Homo sapiens: one gene and its partners. The protein of the gene in region 1 interacts with the protein of each later gene in a biochemical or structural test. Each region holds a gene or a part of one and is shown on either strand. Other genes may lie near its edges.

Region 1 (7,051 bases):
GGCTATTTCTCCTAAAACTGACTTTGCTTGATACAGCAGCGATACCTCATTCTTACACAATGACATTAAAACTTAGGGAAAAAGGAAATACAGCTATAAAGTAAATGACAAAAACTTGAACCCACACACACTAACAAAACTGGTTTAGGGCCTCATTTTAAGGATTCTCACCCTTCCTTTTGCCCAAGAATCTTCTAGGCGGTTTACTAAAAAAGTGGCTGTCCTTTTTCAGACCTCGATTCAGGATTCAGCTTCAGATACGTGGAAACTAGACATTCCTAAAGATTCTCACCACCACATAAAACTAAAACAAGCTCTTTACTGCTCAGGATTACAGGGCAATTTCCAGCAATTACAGTCATTCAGGGATTCTAGGACCTGCCTGAACTGCACGAGACCCTTACTACTTCACACTCTCCATCTCCCCATTGGCTTTTGACATTTTCCCTGCTCAAGGGCCAAGCAGTATTTGAAAGGCTGAGGGAAAGATCGAGACATTAACTTCTCATGGACAGCTCTAATTAAAAAAGAAAATGAAAAACTTGTAGAGTAAGAAATCCATTTTCCTTTAAAAACTACAATTTATGATTAGCTGAGCCTCCTCCCATCACCAAAAGTTGGCATTCCCTCCACTCTACCCAGACGTTCCCTGTTCATAACACTGTTTCATCACGTCATATTATCATTGTGACTTCTTCCTCCACTAGAGGACAAGAGCTGTTTTGTAATCAGCACCCACCACCATCTCTATTACATAGTAGGTGCTTTAAATATGTTCACTGGCTTTTATTCTTGCCCTGTCTCCCAATGGATAATTAATATTCTATTGGATCTGTCCTGGCATAGGTAAAAAGTTATCTTATAGAAATCAGTTACCGGGTTATAGATGATATTCTGTAGGTTGTTTAAGGACAACATCATTCTTTTCCAGCTTCTTGTCGATTGGAGTCTCTTCTGTGTATGACCTAAGATTTTAGGCAAGTTTCATTTAAAGGTTACCTGGATTGAAACTGAGGCACTGGCCCTGTGTAAAGTAAAAATAGAGGAAAAGAAAAGTAAGCATGTAGCATTTTTCTTCATATCCTATTTTAAAATTTAAATTATATATTATGTTACTGATATTTACCAAATAATAGAATATTATTACAATCAACGATCTGCCTCCCATTCTTACCAGTGTGCTCATATACTAAATAATTTTGGATTGTGAGTGTAGGAAATATTGACTTAAAAAATACATCAGTAGAAAATTTCTAACATGGAATTTATTATTAAAAATACTAAAATAGGCCAGGCATGGTGGCTCACACCTGTAATCCCAGCACTTTGGGAGGCCAAGGCGGGTGGATCACCTGAGGTTCAGGAGTTAGAGACCAGCCTGACCAATATGGTGAAATCCCATCCCTACTAAAAATACAAAAATTAGCCAGACGTAGTGGCATGCACCTGTAGTCCCAGCTACTCAGGAGGCTGAGACAGGAGAATTGCTTGAACCTGGGAGACGGAGGTTGAAGTGAGCCGAGATTGTGCCACTGCACTCCAGCCTGGGCAACAGAACGAGACTCCATCTCAAAAAAAAAAAAAAATTTAATTAATTAATGGTAAATACTAATCAAACAGTCCCGTACAATTACCAGAGGTATTCATTTAGATTTTCATTTCCATAAAATGAGAATTACAGTATTCACATCATTGGTTTGTTCTGAGGATTGAGTTAATAAAACAGCGAAAGAGTAAGCGCTATGTTAGCTATTATTATTGTGAATAGAAAGAATTGCTCTTCCTCCTCCAATTTAAACAAATCAAAGTAGGGAAAAATCCAATACTTTTAATACTATTAAGATACGGTTTTCTCTGTTGCTTAAAAAAATAATAATCACAGGGCAGGGGAGTGTTGGAAAGCATCAGCCACATTTTTTAAGATAAAAGCACTCATGGACACTACACTACATTTAATAGCTCCAGGAAAAACTCGACTTTAAGCAGAACTAAAGGGGAAATGAAACCAGAGCTTCCTGTATTTTACTTCCAGCAATTCTGTCATTATACTGCACACCAACAATACACACCGATCAAATCTATCACTTTTTCTTTATTAAGAAAAAAAACTGTATCCCTCTTGGTTTACCACCTAAATATAGCCCCATGTCATTAACTTAATTCGTTAGTCAAAACCTCAAAACTCTGGCTCCGTGACTCAATTCAGGAAGTAAGAACAAGAGCAAAAAGAATGGATGCCGAGTTGCCATACACATGTATAATAACAAGCCAGTGACCCAATTTAAGCCATCTGCTTGCATTAAATCACGCAACCCCCGAAGTATCCCCAGGGACAGGTCCCGCCAGCATGAACACTTCGTATGCATCACAAGCAGCCATCACTTAAGTTTCACGTACGGTCAAAGGAAGTCACATGACTTGCGCTTTGCAATGTTTAACACTGCAGTCAAATGACTCGGCATCCTAAAGAGCGTGTTAGAGGCAGGGAACGCAATGGAGGTCACTCCACTGTCACTACAAATTCCGGGAAGGAAACTTCCCCAGATTCCTCCACTTGGAGGTGGCGCTCGGCCTCAGGCTAGGAGGGAACAGGTGAGAAAGCAGCCCAGGTGGGGTGGGTTTGCAGCGAGGAGACACCCCAGGGCAAACAGCCTGACCCCAGCCAGGGATGTCCAAGAAAGGCCGCGACTCCTGATAATCCCTTATGCCCCGGAGCGCCTCGCCTGCAGAGGCAGCGTCCCCGCCACCCAGCCCCGGCTCTGCCGCGGTGAGGACCGGCGGGTCGGGGTGGACTGGACACTGTCCCACCCATCAAATGGTGATTTAGGAGCCGTGACATCCGAATGCCATCCTCCACTGGCGAGACCCTCAGAGCAGCCACGCCTCTAGCGACTGCCCCGCCACCCGAGGCCGGGGGTCGCGCGACTCACCCAAAGACTGGTGTTTCAGGCGCTCCACGGAGCAGGTTGTTTGTCAGCAGCTAAGTGCCGTCAGGGTTCCCGGCTCTGGCGTCCGTGGGCGGCTACGGGAAGCGACAGGAGTCAGTCCTCGTTCACTTCCCGGCTCGCGCGCCTCACTGCTGTGGTCTCCCCACCCTCCCCGCGCCCCGCCTTCTGTGTCTGGGGCGTCCCTGGCGGCTCTGCTGGGTTTTGGACAGGGACCCGCCGCTGATCGCCACCCAGCTCGGCCTCCTGCACAGCCTCTGGAGCCTTGGACCGCGACTGGCTTGCTGTGGGACGAGCACAGAGGGATAAGGACAAAGAATGTGTCCTGGGTGGATCTGGCTGCCTTTGCCCGGAAGGCGGAGTGGGGTGGGAGGTGGTAGGAAAATGGGAAGGAAAGAAAAGAAAGGTGGGCCGACGTCCACCTGGCTGTTCCAGGCCTCCAGGTCTAGGAGGGAGGGCGCTCGGGGCTGGGACTTTTCAGGACCAGGGTGGTCACCGCACAGGCCCCGCCTGCCTGGACCAAGCGCTGGCCTTCCCGGGGCGCCCAGGTCCACGGGGTCAACGCCAGGGTTTTCTCAGCTTCCTCGTCTGCCTCGGATCCAAGTCCAGACAGTGCCAGAAGAGACTTGGAGGCGCTGCTTTTTGACAGTACACACCTCTGTATGCAGGTGAAACGGTGGGGGAAGGGTTCAGTACGCTGGACTGTGCCCAGCCCAAGCTCCCCATCCGTTAGTGATAACTTGGACTCGCAGCCACTCCGCGTCACTCGCCAGTTATCCTGCGTGTGGGTGTTTTCTCCAAATTGGACACTTAGGGAACAGTTTAAGCAGTATGGAGCACAATTCTGTGCCTATTAGATGCTCTTAAATACCCGACTTCTCAGGGCCCTACACTGACTGATAGTTTGACCTATTGGCTGTAAACACACCAGCCAGAAATACAAATAAAGTTAAACAAAGTCATGTCAGCCACTTGGAATGGCTGGCTGCTTACTGTTTATTTTCTGTTAGGGACCTCAAAGTTCTCATCTTCTCTACTTGGCTTTTATCCACATTTGTTTGGAAAGATATATTTTAGTGTCATTAACGTGGGCTTTCTCCTCCCTGGCTTTTGTTTTCATTATTTTTTGTTTTAATTGAGGAATTCATTACAAGTCCCATAACTGGGAACTCATGTTCTGATTCACTGTTGCTTTTCTCTCCTCCTTACCCATTTTCCAAGCCTGATGCACTTCTCAAGATCCAATCTGAATAGGTGAATTTACCCTTGACATACACTGCCTTGGATTTATAGCTGTCTTTTGGTATGTGTTGTGTGTTTTATCTATCCAACTCGACTGTAGTTTGAGAAAAGGAACTTGTCTTATACAGTCTCCAGTGCATAGTGTAATGCTTTGCATAAAATAGATATCAATGTTAGGTTGAAATGTTAGATTATTGATAAAGTCAGGAGCAATTGAATATCTTCACAATTCTGCCTGAGTCTCCCCCCAGCCCCGCCACTTTGAGACAGGGTTTCCCTCAAGTGATCCTCCCACCTCAGCCCCAGGAGTAGCTGGGACTATAGACGCACACCACTATGCCCAGCTAATTTAAAAATTTTTTTTTGTAGAGACAGGGTCCACTGTGTTGCCCAGGCTGGTCTCAAACTCCTGGGCTCACAATATCTTCCTGCCTTGGCCTCCCACAATGCTGAAATTACAGGCATGAGACACCAAGCTGGGCCCTGAGTCAACCTTGTACTTCTTTACAAAGCTAAAATAAGTTGAAATAAGTACACATAAATGCTGTGTTTCTTTTGTAAGTCATATTTAGGTGCAAACGGGGCTGAGTGAAAGGGCCAGAGAGCAGAGTTAACAAAGAAAATCTGGATTAAAATGTTCATAAATCCTAAGAACTTATTCCTAGAAATATCTCCCTCATTTGGCACTGTTGTTCAATTAGCCCAGTGTGTTATTTTAAATAAGCAAATATTCACTGAATGCCTATCATGGCCAGGCACAGCAGTAAAGAATACTAGCATGCAAAGGACCTCATGGGCCCTTCTAGATAGAGTCCCACATCTCTTACATTATTACTGCAGTATCCTAATCGGTCTCCCTATATTTGCCCTTGCCCCTCTGCAATGTAGTCTCAACACAACAGCCAGAGAAGTCATGACAAAACATAATTCAGATCATGTTAATCCCTTACTAAAACCTACTTTTTTTTTTTTTTGAGGCAGTCTCACTCTGTTGCCCAGGTTGGAGTGGAGTACAGTGTTACATTCTCAGCTCACTGCAGCCTCTGCCTACCGTGTTCAAGTGATTCATGTGCCTCAGCCTCCTGAGTAGCTGGGACTACAGGTGCGCGCCACCATGCCCAGCTAAGTTTTGTATTTTTAGTAGAGATGAGGTTTCACCATGTTGCCCAGGCTAGTCTTGAACTCCTGACCTCAAGTGATCCGCCCGCCTCGGCCTCCTGTAACCTGGGATTGCAGGTGTGAGCCACTGCATCCGGCCAACCGTCTACTAATTTTTGCTCATTCTTTGAGTAAAGATCCAGTTCTTACACGAGCACTTCCTGATCTGCCCGAATCCTCACACACTGTGATTTCATCTCCTACTACTTTCCTTCTCACTTTTTCTGCAGCAGCCACAGCGACTTTGCTATTCTCCTAGCAGGCCTGTCACACTCCCATCCTAAAATCTTTACTCAATATTTCCTTTTCCCTTTTCAAGTCTACTCAAATGTCAGTTCTCAGTGGGGCCCTTCCTGACCACCAATATTTAAAATTGCAAACACTCTCCCAAAACACACTCATACACACTCCCTAGCAACTCTTCCTTGCTTTATTTCTGGCTAACATTTGTCATGCTAATATACTATATAAGGTGCCTTTTTATTTTATGTTACTTCACCCATCATAAGACTATAAACTCCATGAGGGCAAGGAGTTTTGATTGTTCTTGTTTCGAGGAAGCTTATACTCTAGTTGAGGACACATACAGTGATGTGTTTTAGAGAAGATTAAATTGGGAGCACCTGAGTGGCAACCTTAGTTGGGTGACAAGGAAAGTCTCTCAGAGGAGTCAAAGTTTAAGCTGCTGGTGAGTGAAAGAAAGGAAACAGCCATATGAAGATGGTGGGGAAGAGCATTCCAGCCTTAGCGAGCAGCTGCTGCAAAGTCCCTGAGGGTCTTGAGAATGCATTAAATGTGTTCAGGAAACAAAGGCCACCAACCAGTATGGCTGAAGCATGAGGGAAGAATGATATGACATCATGAGATTGGATGGCACCACCTAGGAGAGTAGTGGGAGAAAATCACCTCGGACAGCCCTGGGGAGATAAGACAACGCCAATAAATGAGACTGAGAAGGGACAACCAGGGGAATTTGCTGAGAGTGGTGTCACAGATGCCAAAGAAAGAGAAACAGCCTGTGTGCCAAGTGTGCTGAGAGGCCAAGGAGGACGGAAGTAAGCAATGGGCTTAGGAACATGGATGTCATTGCTGACTCTGACTCTGAAGTGTGTTGAGAAATGGGAGGTGAAGAACTGGTGGAAACCATGACTATAAAGATTTCAGAAAGGTTTGCTGTGAGGAGGAATGGAGAAGCAGCATTATAGCTGAGGAAGGAGTGGAGCAAAGGGCAGATTCAGGTTTTCTCCTGTTGTTTTTTTTTTTTTTTTAAAGAGAAGATACTACATTGGTGACTTTTAGACTTCTTTTTTTTCAAGTGACCTGCCATAAGAATTACATTTCCATTGAGACTTACTACACACATACTTAAAATTACGAAAACAAAAATTTTGACCAGGCACGTTGGCTCACTCCTGTAATCCCAGCACTTTGGGAAGCCGAGGCAGGTGGATCACTTGAGGTCAGGAGTTTGAGACCAGCCTGGCCAATATGGTGAAACCCTGTTTCTACTAAAAATACAATAATTAGCTGGGCCTTGTGGCGCATGCCTGTAATTTCAGCTACTCGGGAGGCTGAGGCATGAGAATCGCTTGAACCCAGAAGGCCGAGGTTGCAGTGAGCTGAGATTGTACCACTGTACTCCAGCCTGGGCAACAGAGTGAAACTGTGTCTAAAAAAAAAAAAAAAAAAAAAAAAAAATTGTACAA
Region 2 (7,825 bases), on another chromosome or scaffold:
TGAGGCAGGCGGATCACAAGGTCAGGAGATCGAGACCATCCTGGCTAACACGGTGAAACCCTGTCTCTACTAAAAATACAAAAATTTAGCTGGGTGTAGTGGCGGATGCCTGTAGTCCCAGCTACTCGGGAGGCTGAGGCAGGAGAATGGCGTGAACCCGGAAGGTGGAGCTTGCAGTGAGTCGAGATCGTGCCACTGCACTCCAGCCTGGGCGACAGAGCGAGACTCCGTCTCAAAATAAATAAATAAATAAATAAATAAATAAATAAATATAATAATTGTATTGGTATTATATTTTAATTGAAAGTCCAATTCCAATTCATCCTCCCCAACAAACACATGCACACTTTCATTTCAGGCAAAACTGTATTTAGCGTACCCAATTCTCTTGAAGGAGAACTACTGCCTCATAAATGCAATGTAGTAATAGTCCCAAACTGAAAAGAATCCATGACATCACTAACTGGTAAATGAACAAACTGTGGTGTATCCATACAGTGGCATATTACCAAACAATTAAACTGTTAATATATACAACAAGATAAATCTCAAAAGCATGCAAAGTGAAAGAACCCAAACATCAAATTTAAGTTATTGTATGATGCTATTTATGTGAAATCCTAGAAAAGAGAAAGCTATGGTATTTGAAAGTACATCAGTGGAAGCCAGGGCCCAGGAGTGGGAGAAAAGTTTGAACTGCAAAGGGCATAAGGAAATTTGAAGGGTGAATACATAAAGGGAAATGCCCTTTATGTATCATGATCATGGTGGTGGTTACACAGCTGACTGCAACTGTGAAAATTCACAGAACTGTATGCTTACAATTTGTAACTTACTAGATAGAACTCAATAAACTGACAGAAACAAAAAAATACAAGAAAAATTAAAAGCTTGGTTTCTGATCTTCTAAGCATAATGGAACTGTGTTGTCAAACATGTAGCCAGATATGGCTCTTGAGCATTTGAAGTGTGGCTACTCAGAAATGGGTTGCTTTAGGTACAAAATACACATTGGATTTTGAAGATTTAGTTTAAAAAAGTTAAAGGATCTTATTAATTTTTTTATGTTGATCACATGTCCTAATTGTATTTTGCATGTATTGGGTTAAATGAAATGTATTAAAATTAATTTCACCCGCTTATTTTTAATGAGGCTACTTGAGTATGTAACATTACATATGTGGCTTCATTCTATTTCTAGTTCATTATATGTCTTTTTCCTATCTAATATGCGCTGTAGATATTCATCTAATACTCTCTTTAGACAGAGAAAAATTCTTGAGCAGAAAAAAGATTTGTAAGAGTTGAGGTCTCTTGTCAAAGCTGAGGCTTGGGAAAGAAATTGTGAAGGAGGGGAGCATACAGTTAGCATAGGTGACCCTTGCCCACACACCAGCAAGCCCTGACTGCCCACTGCAGCTAAGTGCAGCCCAAGGGAGATATGGGAGGCTGCCAGTTTCCAACTGAGGCCAAGTCTCCAGAGCAGTGTGGACGGGCTGAGAGAAGGCATTCTGACTGTGAGGAGTGCAGACGAGAAGAGCCTGCAGTCCCAGAGCCCAGTGCATCAAATTAGCAGAAGAAAGAGCCCAAATTCACAACCAGGTGGGACCAATTAAATCAGAACCAGACGCCTGAAAAAGGTCTGCTAACTAGCAACACTGCAAGCACTTGGAGTTCTTTATGCAGAATCTCAGTCTTTCCTGGAATGATTCAGAATCTGCACTTTAATATTAAAGTTCTCTAGGTGATTCTTACGCACATTAAGGCTTCAGAAGCACTGCCTTAGATAAAGGACCTTCTTTCCCAGGTGGATACAATTTAGGGTGCAAAACAGCTAGAAGAGGGAGGGGGACAGAGAATGGCCTGCTATTTAGATACGAAGCATCTTTTAGAATGGAAGCTTGCATCGATATCAAAATGGCTTTCAGAATAAAAATCAGTGACTCAGCAGGGGATACTGGGGCTGGTGTAGGCTGGGGGTTCAGAGTTAGGAATGACAGAGCGGGCCCGTCCACCAGCTGGGAGCCCTAGTGAAAGTGGAATAAAATAGGTGGCAGTTGCATTTATAAGTGAGTTGGGCATGAGTTCTTGCACTTTAGGAATAACATTTTTTTTTATCTTTGTGTAGGGTTATATTTAACCTATTATCTGCAATTGATTATCTAACAGGACTCAATAAATATTTGAATTGGAACATAATCAGTTTCAAAACAAAAAATTTAATTTCCACTTCAAAAGAATTTCTACCCCCTGCATTTCAGAAACCTATAATTTAAAAATTGTTTTGATTGTGCATTTTTTTAAAGCTAGGCATGGAGTTTGCCAGTAATAATGACCATAATTTGTGTCAGGCAGCCTCCTACGTGTTTAAATCTGTCTCACTCAATCCTCACCAAAACTCTAAGATATACATATTACTCCGTCCATCTTATAGATGGAAGAAACTAAAGCTCAAAGAAGTCAAGTTAACAGTCTTCGGGCACACAGCCAGTGTCTGTCAGAGTCAGGATTTGAACACATGCAGTCTGGCTGCGGCATCTATGCTCCTAACCACACATTTCTGTCTCTATTGACTGACTGATTAAAATGTCTCTAACCTCAGTGGGGTCATTTGCAGTGAGAAAGAAAAAGAAATAAAGATATAATGAGTTCCGAAAGGGAAAGGACCTTATCTCTTTCACTGCCCTGTCACCTCTGCCAGAAGTGACAATAAGAGCCAGTCAACAGAACGGTAGACATACCTCTCTGACCCGCACATCTGGGGAATGAGAAGCCAAGAAGTTCCAGATGTAAGCAATATCAGGTGGTCAAAGCTCTTCAGAGCAATCCAAGGCACCTTAAACTAATCTTAAGGAACAGAGCGCGCTCACTCGGCTTTTATCTAAACTCAACCACGCACGACTCTGCTCCGTTCCGTTCCGAGAAAGGCAGGGGATCCCTCCTCCGCCAGCCTTTGGCCGTTGAACGGACGGACCCACAGGTCAGGAGTTTGCGGAAGGCTCATCTCCCAACTCCTTCTGGGAGGAGTCGGGCCGCCTGGGGTGGGGGATAAACGGTGCTCACTTCCTGGAGCGGCCAGGCTGGAGATGGGGGAGGGGAAGGGGGAAGGGGGAAGGGGGAAGGGGGAAGGGGGGAAGGGGAGAACGGGGGAAGGGGGGAAGGGATGCTGACTCTGAATCCACGCCTGACAAAATGGTTTGCAGTGATTCCCTAAAGCAGTTTCCAGAGCTGCCTCCTCTACATACTTCAGCTTGTAGAATAGAGGTTTAACTCTCTTTACACGGCCTATTCCCAGCTGCAAAGGTGCCTCTTCTGTGCTCCCTTCCCAAACTTGAGTTCACTTGAAAATGCAGAAGTCTCCCTCATTCTTCTTTCACCCGTGAACCACCCCCAACCCGACCTGCAGAGCGGGTCAAACTCTCCAGACAAGTGGGGACAGCGGTAGCTGGCCAGAAAATAAACTTGCTCACTAACCTGGAATCTGTGGCCTGGATCAGAGCCAAGGACTTGAAGCAGCCGCGTCCTCCACCCAGGCCGAAAGACTCAGGGGGGAAGGGGCGGGGCCTGGGGAGGAGGAGGGTCAAATTGTCCAGCCCCGCAGGAGATCCAGCCGATTCCATGGGTGTGGTCACCAGTGACCCCTCAGGTGGTAAGGGAGATGGAGATGGTTTCTGAGGCCAGGCGCGGTGGTTCACCCCTGTAATCCCAGCACTTTGGGAGGCCGAGGCGGGCGGATAACGAGGTCAGGAGATTGAGACCATCCCGGCCAACATGATGAAACCCTGTCTCTACTAAAAATACAGAAATTAGCTGGGCGCGCCTGTGGTCCTAGCTACTCGGGAGGCTGAGGCAGGAGAATCGCTTGAACCCGGGAGGTGGAGGTTGCACTCCAGCCTGGAGACAGAGCGAGACTCTCTCTCAAAAAAAAAAAAAAAGAATTTTTGAAGGTAGCAACGCAAAGCTGTTCATCTTACCTGATGAACGGCAAATCCGGAGGCCTTTGAGAACACCAGGCCAGAGATGACCCTTGTAAATTGTCTGCAGTGTACTGTAGCTTTCTAATATCATATCAGAGTTTAATTACACTGATAATACACCTGTACTCCATATAGACGTATTAATTAAAATGTCTAAATAAACATATAAAGTTATACGAGTAAAAGCCCCTTTGCATAATGGCATGTTTTGCCAAACGATCATTAAAATTCATCAGTTTAAAATTACACGTATGTATGTATAAAGCTGTGTGTGTGTATCTGTAATTTTGACCTATATAACTAGAAGACAATCTTTGTTTTTATTTAGGTCTGATGAATACATGTAAAGCTTATTGAGCCTCAGAACTCTAACTACAGGGTTTCAATAGCACAGAAACTCTGAGAAGAAAAAGAATGTCAAAGTTCCTCCCTAAGGAGACTGATTAGGTGAGTATCACCTTGCCTTAGAAGGTGGCTTGGGGAGGGAGGTATAGAGAGAGAAGGGACTGGGGTGTCCATACAAAAGTCTGGACGGAGGATTGGGCAGTAGGGAGAGAGCTGGGTTAAGTATCAAGAGATTTCTCTGGACAGTCCCCAGGCAAATGAAAGGTCATTGGAATCTCGTAAGTGCAGACATGTGTCACTATTTCAGTGACTACCTCATGTCTGCAGGCTTAAGAAGCCACGCAAAGGTTATTTCAGATCACCCTTTGTGTAGCTTTCTTCACAACGGTTTTAGGTATGGCTGCCTCCATATTGCCCCTGGATGACGCTTCAGGTCAAAGCCTGCTTATGCTCTGAAATTCTCCTGACCCCACCCAAACTGCCCAGTATGGACACCACCCTGCCACTGGCCCAGCCAACATTTAAGTCCCTTGGAATACAAAATGGTATGATTGACACCCAGAGGGTTAGAAATATTGGAAAAGGGATGGAGAAGCCCAACCCAGAGTCCCTTCTCAGGCCATTTTCTAAGAGCTGATATAAATGGAAGTAACTTACAGGCTCCATAGTCTTGTCAGCATAGGGCTTCATTTCTGGGGCTAGTAGGCTCAGTTAAAAAAAAAGGATGTTGGCTGGGCATGTTGGCTCGCTTGTAATCCCAGCATTTTGGGAGGCCGAGGTGGAAGGATAGCTTGAATCCACAATTTTGAGGCCAACCTGGGCAACATAGTAAGACCCTGTCTAAAAAAAATAAGTAAATTGCCAGGCATAGCGGTACGTGCCTGTAGTCCCAATTACTTGGGAGGCTGAGAGGTGGGAGGATCACTTGAGCCCGGAAGGTTGAGGCTGCAGTGAGCCATGATCCTGCTACTGCTCTCTAGCCTGGGCAACACAGTGATAATCAGTCTCAAAACAAAAAAGAAAACAAAAAACAGAATGAAAGACTGTTTCTCAGTGTGCAGAATTTTTCCTTTTTGTTTGCTAACCAAGGCAGTTTTTATTTTCTCTATAATTTCTCATCTTGAACAGGGAGATTGGGCATTCTGACGGTTGAGAAGAAATGAAGGTACTTGGCAATAATTCAAGGGGTCTCGAAAAGTTAGATATAAATTTACCACATAATCCATCAAATCCACTCGTAGGAATCTACTCAAAAGAAATGAAAACATATCCGTGCAAAGATTTGTACACAAATGTCCATAGCAGTTTTACTCATATTAAAAAATGGAATCAACCCAACTGTTCATCAAGTATTAAATGTATTGAAAAACAAGTGGTATACCCAATACAGTGGAATACTGTTAGTGTTAAAAGGGAACCAAGTATGTGGGATCCAGAGGTTTGGTGGGGTAATATGATGCATCCAGTAGGACAGGTTTGAAGGTAAAGAGGGCACAGATTTGCTGACAGCCCCAAGTTCCTGAATACTCAGAGTACTTGCAGTTCTAGACTCAGGACCCACTGCTGCAGTTCTAGACTCAGGGTGGTATCAACAGAGCCAGCCTGTTATTATTACAATACTCAATATTAAATACTCAGTATATACCAGGAATATTGTTTAGTGCACAGGTTGAGGTGTCAAGATTTCTTAATAGCAATAAGTGGATATTAACATTTGATAGGAAAGAGGTTTCAGGAAAAGCAAACAGGACCATGACAAGGGTCACAGAATATTCTCATAGCCAAATAGTGATAAAAAAAATACAAACTCAGGAGATAGATTTTCTGTGAGCAAATCTCTAATATGCTCGAATATATTTTCTTTGAGGAAATCTCTAATATATTCACAGGAGAGAGACTTCCTGTGAAAAAAATCTCTAGTATATTTTTTCAGTACAACTTGTTTGAAAGCAGTGTTAGATGATTCCTGTTGTCAGAAATGTTTCTGCCCCTCTCATGGAAAACCCTTCTTAACTCATTACTACCAGCTGGGAGCTGATGGGAACAAAAGAAAAGAAAAAAGTAGATATTGCAAGGCTAAGATTAAGAATCAGGGTAGTTTATGCTTGAGAATTCAGGATAGGCCTAACTGGATTTTCTGAAAGATAATTGTTAACATCTGATTACAGGAAGAACTTCAGTAAAACCAAATGAAAACAAATTTCAGGGAGAAACACCTCTTGTTCCAGAGGCTTAGGGATGTAGGAGAAACAAGCCACCAATTTTGTTTTCAGATGCTTCTGATCATCAAACATGGACCTAATTAATGCATTTTTTTGGTCCTTTCCTCCCTCTCTTTTTTCCATCCTTCTTGTTTTCCCTACTTTCCTCTCATTTTTTCTTCTTTTTTCTTTTTCTTTTTTCTTTTTTTTTTTTTTTTGAGACAATCTCACTCTGTTGCCCAGGCTGGCATGTAGTAGCACAATCTCAGCTCACTTCAGCCACAAACTCTCGGGCTCAAGTGATCTTCCCACTTCAGCCTCTCAAGTAGCTGAGACTAAGGGCATACACCACCGTGCCGGGTAAATTTTTGTGTATTTTGTAGAGACAGGATTTCATTATGTTGCCCAGGCTGATCTCAAACTCCTGGACTCAAGCGATCCACCCACTTCAGTCTCCCAAAGTGCTGGGATTACAGGTGTGAGCCACCACGCCTGGCCCCATCTTTCCTTTGATATTTTATATTTTCTTCCTTCCTTCTTTTTAAAAATTTGTTTTGTTCTTTCTTTTCAGCAGACACATATTAAACTATATATGTCATATAGCACGGTATTTAAGATGGTATTTAAGATGATGGACTCTGGAACCAGTTTTGCCAAGATTCAGATCCTAGCTCATTTACTTACCATCTGTATGATTTGGGGCAAGTTACTTAACCTCTCTTGGGCCTCAGTTTCCCTATCTGTAAAATACCTACTGCATAGAGTTATTGTGAAGACTAAATATGCAAGTATATGTGGAGTACTTAGGACAGTCCCTGAAACACAATAGCTCGTCAGTGAGTGATAGGTAGCATTATTAACTATAATGAAGTACCAAGCATTTGGCAGGGCTCTGGAGTAATACCGATGAATAAAACATGAATTTTGCTGTGCATATATTCACATTCTAGTCAATTTGAAGAAAATCAAGCTAGTCACTTAAATATAGCTTTTTGTTTGTTTCTTTCCTATTATCTCATTTTCTCTAAATCCCCTTCCTAGATAATCCCATCCAGTTTCCTAGCTGACAAAGTCCTAACATTAACTATAGATCAGACCTCTTTTGGGCTCCAGAGTCCATGTGAGTAACTAACTCACAGGTAGAACAAAAACAAGATGTTATAACCTCAGCGGACTCATCTGGTTTAACTTTTAAGTGTCATAGTTGTGAGCTGTTTTTCAATTGCCACAGCCCCCCGGGGCTAAAGGTCACATAGCCTGAACATGCCTAGATAAACCAAGCATGCAACCACAGGTGGAACC
Region 3 (7,674 bases), on another chromosome or scaffold:
GTATTCTCAGGACACCAGCTTAGAGACAGCCTATATTGGAACTCTCTAGACTCCATAATCAAGCAAATTAATTTTCCTGATGAATTCTGTCCCATGTAGAATCATGTATAGCTTGTGGACAGATGTATGTTCTGAGAAATGTGTCAGGTGTTTTTAGTTTTTTTTTGTTTTTTTTTTTTGAGACAGAGTATCCTTCTGTCACGCAGGCTGAAATGCAGTGGCGTGATCTCGGCTCACTGTAACCTCCGCCTCCAGGTTCAGAGCGATTCTCCTGCATCAGGTTCCCAAGTACCTGGGATTACAGGAACGTGACACTAGGCCTGGCTAATTTTTGTATTTTTTTAGTAGAGATGGGGTTTTGCCATCTTGGCCAGGCTGCACTTGAACTTCTGGCCTCAAGTGATCTGCCTGCCTTGGCTTTGCAAAGTGCTGGGATTCTAGGCACGCGCCACAGTGCCCAGCCCGGCGGTTTCATTGTTTTAATATGATAGAATATACCACACAAATCTAGATGGTATAGCCTACTACACCTATGGTATACACTATAGCCTATTGTTCCTACAATAGGCTACAAACCTGTACAGTATGTTCTGTACTGCATACTGTAGGCAACTGTAACACAATGATAACTATTTGTGTATCTAAACATAATTGAATACAGAAAAGGTACAGTAAACATATTGGTATTATAATCTTATGGGACCCCCATATGTGGTTTGTGGCTGACTCAAATGGCCCATGAATGTATCTGCACACATATATGTATACATCCTATGGTTCTGTCTGGAGAACCCTGACTAATATAAAAACTATAATCTTTGTTTTGGCAATTTTAAATCCTTTAGCATAAAGCAGCATAAAGCTGCTAGTTTTATATCACTTCTGAATTTAAGTGAAAGCAGTGAAAAATCTTAGAATTGCAAATATTTTCCAGAACTCATCTAAGACATTTTAAGAAATTTTTCACAGTTTAATAAGATTGAGACTCAAGTGAGATGACAATCACAATCACATACCATATTAGGTCTTATAAATTTACTTGTTCGAAAAATTGTGTTTTGATTTCTAAAGTAGGATATTTTGGGGAGCTTTCTCATTGTTTTAGTTTCACTATTTTGCATCGCTCATCATTACCTTACTAATTTAAAGTCATGTCTAAAACCTGAATGTTATGAAAGCAAATAACTTCATCATTCATTAATGTCTTCTCAATTCAATTTGACAATATTAATACACTCATTACATACATATACACACACACCTATGTGTACATATATGTATCAACTCCATATATTCATTATGAATACATATCTGTTGCAGCAAACACTAGATATTTTAAGTTTTTCAGAACTATATTAAACAATCATAGAAAGCACAAAATAACAACAATTAGTATCCTTATAATTCATAAAATCTATAGTAAGAACATGAGTTACAAATGGTATCATTGTGTAGATTTCAGATAATGAGATATTTTTAACACTCTAATTTATTATTGTGTAAAGGAAAGATGATATAATTTTATCAATATGTTTCACTCACCCTGGAGTTCTTTTAATGGTTCCCACAACGATTTTTCCAAAAATAATTTTGTTAAGTTCACCTCAAGATCAGAAGCTCATTCACTGCAGTACTGAATTTCAGAGGTCGCCAAAATGCAGTTCTAAGTGCAGTCCTTCTCCTTCAGAGAAAACTGAGCTTGTCTCTTCCGTGTCCTTTTATAAGAACCTGTGAAGACCACACCCACCTCTTTATGGGTATTTAGAGCATTCAGAAAGGTGGAGACAAAGATGATTAGGTTTATGCAGTATTTAGAACACACCTTTGCAGCTCTGATTAAATTATCATCACACTTTCATTCTGAACACCAGTGCCTGAATGAATCATATGTAACATAAATCCTGTCAGAGCATACATAGGCTAGAAATTAACTAAGATGCATTTTATACTGTTTATTGAGTTTCTTCCATGATACAGGCATTCCTCTAAGTGCACATTTATTTATTCTAGAGAAAGGGTCTCCTTCTGGAGTGCAGTAGCATAATCATAGCTCCCTGCAGCCTTGAATTCCAAGTAATCCTCCTGCTTCAGCCTTCCAAGTAGCTACGACTTTAGGCTCACACTATATCACCTGGCTAATTTTTTTTGTTGAAATTTTTGGTAAAGTCAGTGTATGACTCTGTAGCCCATGCTGTTCTCCAACTCCTGGCTTCAAGTGGTCCTCTGGTCTCGGCCTTCCAAAGTGCTAAGAGTACAGGTATAAACCACCTCATCCAGCTTAAATGCTGCTTTAGTACATTTATAGGATATTTCCAGAGAAGTCCAATGGAAGATAAAACTTTCCTTTTTGTTTTCTGTTTTCTACCACTCTAAGAGAAATCACTGATTAACCAAATAAACCCACTAACCTGGGGTCTCTCATTGAATTTACAAAACTTCACCAGTCTCATGGGTGAAAGATGAGTTATGATTTTAACGTTTTTCTCCATATAGTGCATGATGTCCTACAATGACTAGGAGTGCACCACGGGAATTATTTTGGGGATTACACATAACTTTTAGCATATAGGCAAATTCACAAATACAGAATCCAAATGATAGAGATGGACTATATTTTTCTTTCTATGCCAAGTCTTTTTGTTGTTATATGAAAATTATTTTTTTTAAAAAAGAGATTTCAGAAGGGACTACTCAAATATCTTCTGATAGAGGAATTCTTTGCCAATGGTCCAGAAGACTTATGGTCAAGACTGTCAAAACAGTGAAGACAAATCTATCAGACCCAGGTCTGTCCAGGTTCAAAGACAAAAGCAGAACCCATAAGATATATGTATAGTTAGGGAGATTCACATATGAATTAAGTGCAAAGACTTGACTTACCCAATTGTGGGAGCTGCTTAAGCAAATGTGAGATCCTGGGTACAGTCCATCAGGAAAAGAAATCCCCCGCTGGCTGGATCCCAGTGGTCATGAATCAAAGCTTTGGTTTAAAGTCAATAGGGGGCAACTGGAAGATTAGAGTCCCATTTGCCATTTAAAATGTTGTTCAAGGAATGCCTATGTGTTTCTTTAAAGGACTTTCACTGATGAAGTCAGGCTTACTTGGGTACACTTCCTAGTTACAGGATTAGGACCTTTGCTCGCATCTGCAAAATGCCTTTCCAGCAGGTCCTAAGTAAGTGTTTCATTGAAGAATAATAAGGTATGTCTATGCCACAAAATGGCTACTGCCCTCATTTCCCTCTTTGTACATACATGTACTCAAGTTGACACATCATAAAATCATCCAGAGTTTATATTTAATTAAATACAAGGAATTGAACAATAGATTTTCTTGTTCTATTGTCAGTTTACTATCCAAGACCACCAACTGACTGACCACCCTGTATGCACATTCTGTACCTCAATAAATCTAAGTAATTAACCAAAGTGTCCACACAGAAGTAAGATCTGCGCTGGTTGTGTGTGGGGGCCCTCTTGGCTCAGTCCTGGACTCCAGAGTGGGAAACTTGTGAAACCCTGGGTCATGGACTTGATCCTGTGGACATTCTCTGCTTAAATTCTGGAGCTCCGTGGCGGGGCCCTGGTACTCCATTACAAGGTCTGATGATGCTGTGTATCAGGAAGGAATTAGGGCAAGGAGAGAAAGGAAGGTAGGTAGCTTCTGATTTTATTTCAACCACTTTTTGCACCACATCATTCACTTATTCAAACACTCAGCTTTAGGCAGTTGAAGCCTAGAGCACTGGAAATTAGGAGCTTTCAATTACAGACCTACCTCTGTCTACTGTGGCATTATCAAGGAAACAACCTATTTTCCTACTTGAGTCTCAGACCATGAAACAAATATAAGAAAGTAATTCTCTTTAGAGTTGGCATTTTGTAGGTTCCAAAAGTCCTACCCAATCCAGAAGAGAGAGTAGAGGTGGGTATAGGCAAGAACAATCCGTGATGTGGATAAAGGACACTCCAGCCAATTTGGAATATTTCCTTATTTCCCAGTGCTTCTCCTTTTAATAAAAAAGATACTTTTTTGTACATGAGACTGTTTCCATTCTAGCATCTGAAACCTACCTCTACCACAAAGTTTTCTGTTGAATTACACATCTATTTTTGAGAATCTGGTAATAGACTCTTTTGTTCATCTGGGTTCTAAAACTCATTGGAAAATCTTTGTATGAAAGTTGGTGATCTATTTCTCGTTCCTTAACATATGTAGAAATCTGACTTTATTTAATTCTGGAAATTTTTAAATTTTTATAAAAATGCCATTCTATGATAAATACCATTTAAAACCTAGGTATTATAACTACTTTGACATTTTGTTTGTTTTATTTGCGCACATGGAGAGAATTCTGCATATTTTTTCCCATGCTAACAAAATTTATTAATTTTCCACAAATTTATATTTTGCTTTGTGGATCCTGAATGTCCAGGGCTATCTTTTCTTTAACGCTTTTTTTTTTTTTGGCATTTCTTCTCAATTGTTTTACCCGTTTATTGTCTATTTTTCTACAAACCCCAGTCATTTTCTCTTGAAACCTCTTATCTATTTGAGTGGAGAGAAATATGTTAGAAAAAGGAAGGGGACAATGTGATACATGGGCTATGATGTACCAGTTACTGTGCTGTCTCCATGCACACATTGTTCCTAATCTCCACAGAAAACATGCAATATGTGTAGCATTGTCCCAACTTTACATATGAGCACATAAAAGGTAAGCTTTTCGTTGTTGTTGTTGAGTCCGAGTCTCACTCTGTCGCCCAGGCTGGAGTGCAGTGGCGGCGTGATCTTGGCTCACTGCAAGTTCCACCTGCCGGGTTCACTCCATTCTCCTGCCTCAGCCTCCCGAGTAGCTGGGACTACAGGCGCCCGCCACCATGCCCGGCTAATTTTTTTGTACTTTTAGTAGAGACGGGATTACACTGTGTTAGCCAGGATGGTCTCAATCTCCTGACCTCGTGATCCGCCCGCCTCAGCCTCCCAAAGTGCTGGGATTACAGACGTGAGCCACCGCGCCCGGTCGTAAGCAATCTTTTTATGGTCCTGTTTCCTGTATGGGATGGATTCAGGGATCAATTACATGTCGTCAACTCCATAAATCCTCAAATCTCTCAACGTATTTTCTCACTTAGAGCCACAGAAACACATATGATTCCTTCTGTGCTTGTGTGTTCAGGTGAGGTTCAGCCTACATTCTGAAGTTTCTTCCTCTGATGAATGAAACATTGAGTTCTTGAATATAGCTACATTATCATTAGGCTGTAAAAATCAGAATCAAATAGGTTTCCTTCCTTGAGAAAATAATGGAGGCAACAGTTACAAACAGCACTCTAGGTTTTAGATTTCAATCATGTTTTTCCTTTTCTATTCTTTTTTCTTTTCTTAGAGACAGGGTCTCACTCTGTCATCCAGACTATAGAGCAGTTGCTGGATCATAGCTACTGCAGCTTCAACCTCCTAGGCTCAAGTGATCCTCAACCTCGGCCTCCTGAGTAGCTCTGACTACAGGCAGACACCCGCACTTCAGGTTAGTTTTTAAATTGTTTGTGGAGATATGGTCTTCTTATGCTGTTCTGGCTGGTCTCAAACTCCTGGACTCAATCCTCCTGCTTCGACCTTCCAAGGCACTGGGATTACAGGCGTGAGCCACGGTTCCCAGCCTCGAAGCATTTTCATAGCAAAGAGTTAACAGAACATTTTCTTCTCTAGATTCAGTAGACACAAGATTCTTATATTTTATTCTTCCCATATCTGGCTGTGTATCCTGTTCGCAGACATTACATTGCCAAATTTGTTTTCCATTCATCTTTCCTAGCACAGTATAGAAAAACGAGTACTGTGGAGTAGAGTTTTCACATTCTTTCCTGAACCCTGCCAGTTCTAATGGTGCTCATGGACTTAGCCATTTCCCTTCACTGGAATCCATTCTTGTTTATAAACAACAGTAAGTGTTGTTTATAAAATTTCCAAGGAACAGAGCAGAATGTAAGGTTAGCATATCTTGTGTTTTTACCTCCCCTAAGCCCAAAGGATCATGAGTACTACATACAGAAATCTTTCCTCCTTACCCCTGTCACATTCTACTTGGATGCTGTGGAGAAATAAACCCAGTGTATCCCCTTCTGCTATACAAAATAATACTATTTGGCTTAAACTGATGTTTGTAAAATTTCATCCACAGATTTCAGTCACATTTTCAAATAAATCCATTATAAAACCATGTAATACAAGTTGACTGTTTGTTATTCACAATGTTAGGGCCAGAAGAATTTCAGGTTTTGGATATTTGTGGATTACAGAATATTTGCATAGACATAATAAGATATCTTGTGTATCAACCCAAGTGTAAACACAAAATTTATGTTTCATATACACCTTATACAGATAGGCTAAAGATAATTTTAGACAATATTTTAAATAACTTTATTCATGAAGCAAAGTTTGTGTACACATGCCATTTTATTACCCTTTGTGAGTGCTCTTGCTCGGGGGCATCTAGGTGGACACAGAAAGATATATTGCAACTGAAGGGGCTGGGAGAGTCTTTTGTTCACTGAGAATATGTTTTGACTGTAACTTCTCATATGAGGTCACGTGTGGGATATTTCACTTTTGGTGACATTTCACAGCTCAAAACATTTGAGATTTTGGAGTATTTTGGATTTTTAGATATTTTGATTAGTGGTGCTCAACCTGTATGTTATTTCATCTTTTTTTTCTCCAGGTAGGAATGGAAAATGCATTTTTGTTTTTACTTGTATTACACATTTTTTCCAACTCAAATTCATTATGCATATTGTTAGATGTCTTCAAATTTTGATGAAAAGTCTCAAGTTATATCAATTACTATTTTCAAAAATTGTTTGTAATAAGTAGATTAAATACCATGATAATCCACAGTTAAAAAAATAAACACAAATTCATGTGCTTGTATTCCAGTTGGGTTTTTTTTCCAAACGATGAGCATTAATGAAATACTATACCTTAAAACCTTTTTCTAAATATATTTGAGAATATTGTTTGAAAGTAAAAAATTGAAAAGGACTGAACATACCATAATAAATGATATTTGTGCTTAAGAAGGCTGTCTTTTTCAGAGATTATTTATAAAATAAAAATACACATTTCTAACCTTGTCTCAGTTAAGAGCTTGTTACTGATGTGTTACTTATGATGTTGAATGTTGTTAGTCTAACAGGATGCACTGGTAATAGGACCCTGTCAAGCTGAACTTTCCCGATTTAAATGCTACCTCACCATTCCTGTGCAGTATGTTTTTATTAGAATTCTAGCAGTATGTATTTTATATTGTGACCTAAATAACAAGCACACACAAAAATGATTTCACACTGTGTATGCCGATGTATTTTAAAGTCTATGAAAAATATTGTAGGTATCAGCAAGTAGAACACTGCTTCATACATAGAAAGGGACCAATTAATGCTAAGTAAATGTTATTAGTTACTTAAAGAACTTTGCATTATGTAAATACATCCAAATCAATTATTATTTGGATGGTAATATGATAGCAAACCTAGATGCAGATTTAAGAAGAATATTGAGCAAGAATGGGTTAGGAGGGTGTGAGGAGTAGGCCACAGAGAAAGTTAATACCTATAATTTGCTGAGTCAGAGTTGAAAGCACCTATAGGCTAAGTGGATACCTCCCA

Evidence for each region. The genes of interacting proteins can lie anywhere in the genome.
Region 2: the proteins of LGALS8 (region 1) and TRIM6 form a complex in vitro, tested with the Homo sapiens proteins (one study listed by BioGRID).
Region 3: the proteins of LGALS8 (region 1) and TRIM49 form a complex in vitro, tested with the Homo sapiens proteins (one study listed by BioGRID).

The regions. Positions count from the first base shown.
Region 1 is NC_000001.11:236,519,941-236,526,991, reverse strand, and holds the start of LGALS8 (galectin-8), read right to left. Parts: upstream 3,011-7,051; 5' UTR 2,931-3,010; exon of another isoform or gene 2,484-2,930; intron 1,025-2,483; 5' UTR 922-1,024; coding exon 877-921; intron 1-876.
Region 2 is NC_000011.10:5,591,831-5,599,655, reverse strand, and holds the start of TRIM6 (tripartite motif-containing protein 6), read right to left. Parts: upstream 3,020-7,825; 5' UTR 2,759-3,019; coding exon 2,742-2,758; intron 1-2,741. Other genes in the region: TRIM6-TRIM34 (tripartite motif-containing 6 and tripartite motif-containing 34), read right to left, coding at 2,742-2,758.
Region 3 is NC_000011.10:89,805,557-89,813,230, forward strand, and holds the start of TRIM49 (tripartite motif-containing protein 49), read right to left. Parts: upstream 3,020-7,674; 5' UTR 2,881-3,019; intron 1,729-2,880; 5' UTR 1,543-1,728; intron 1-1,542.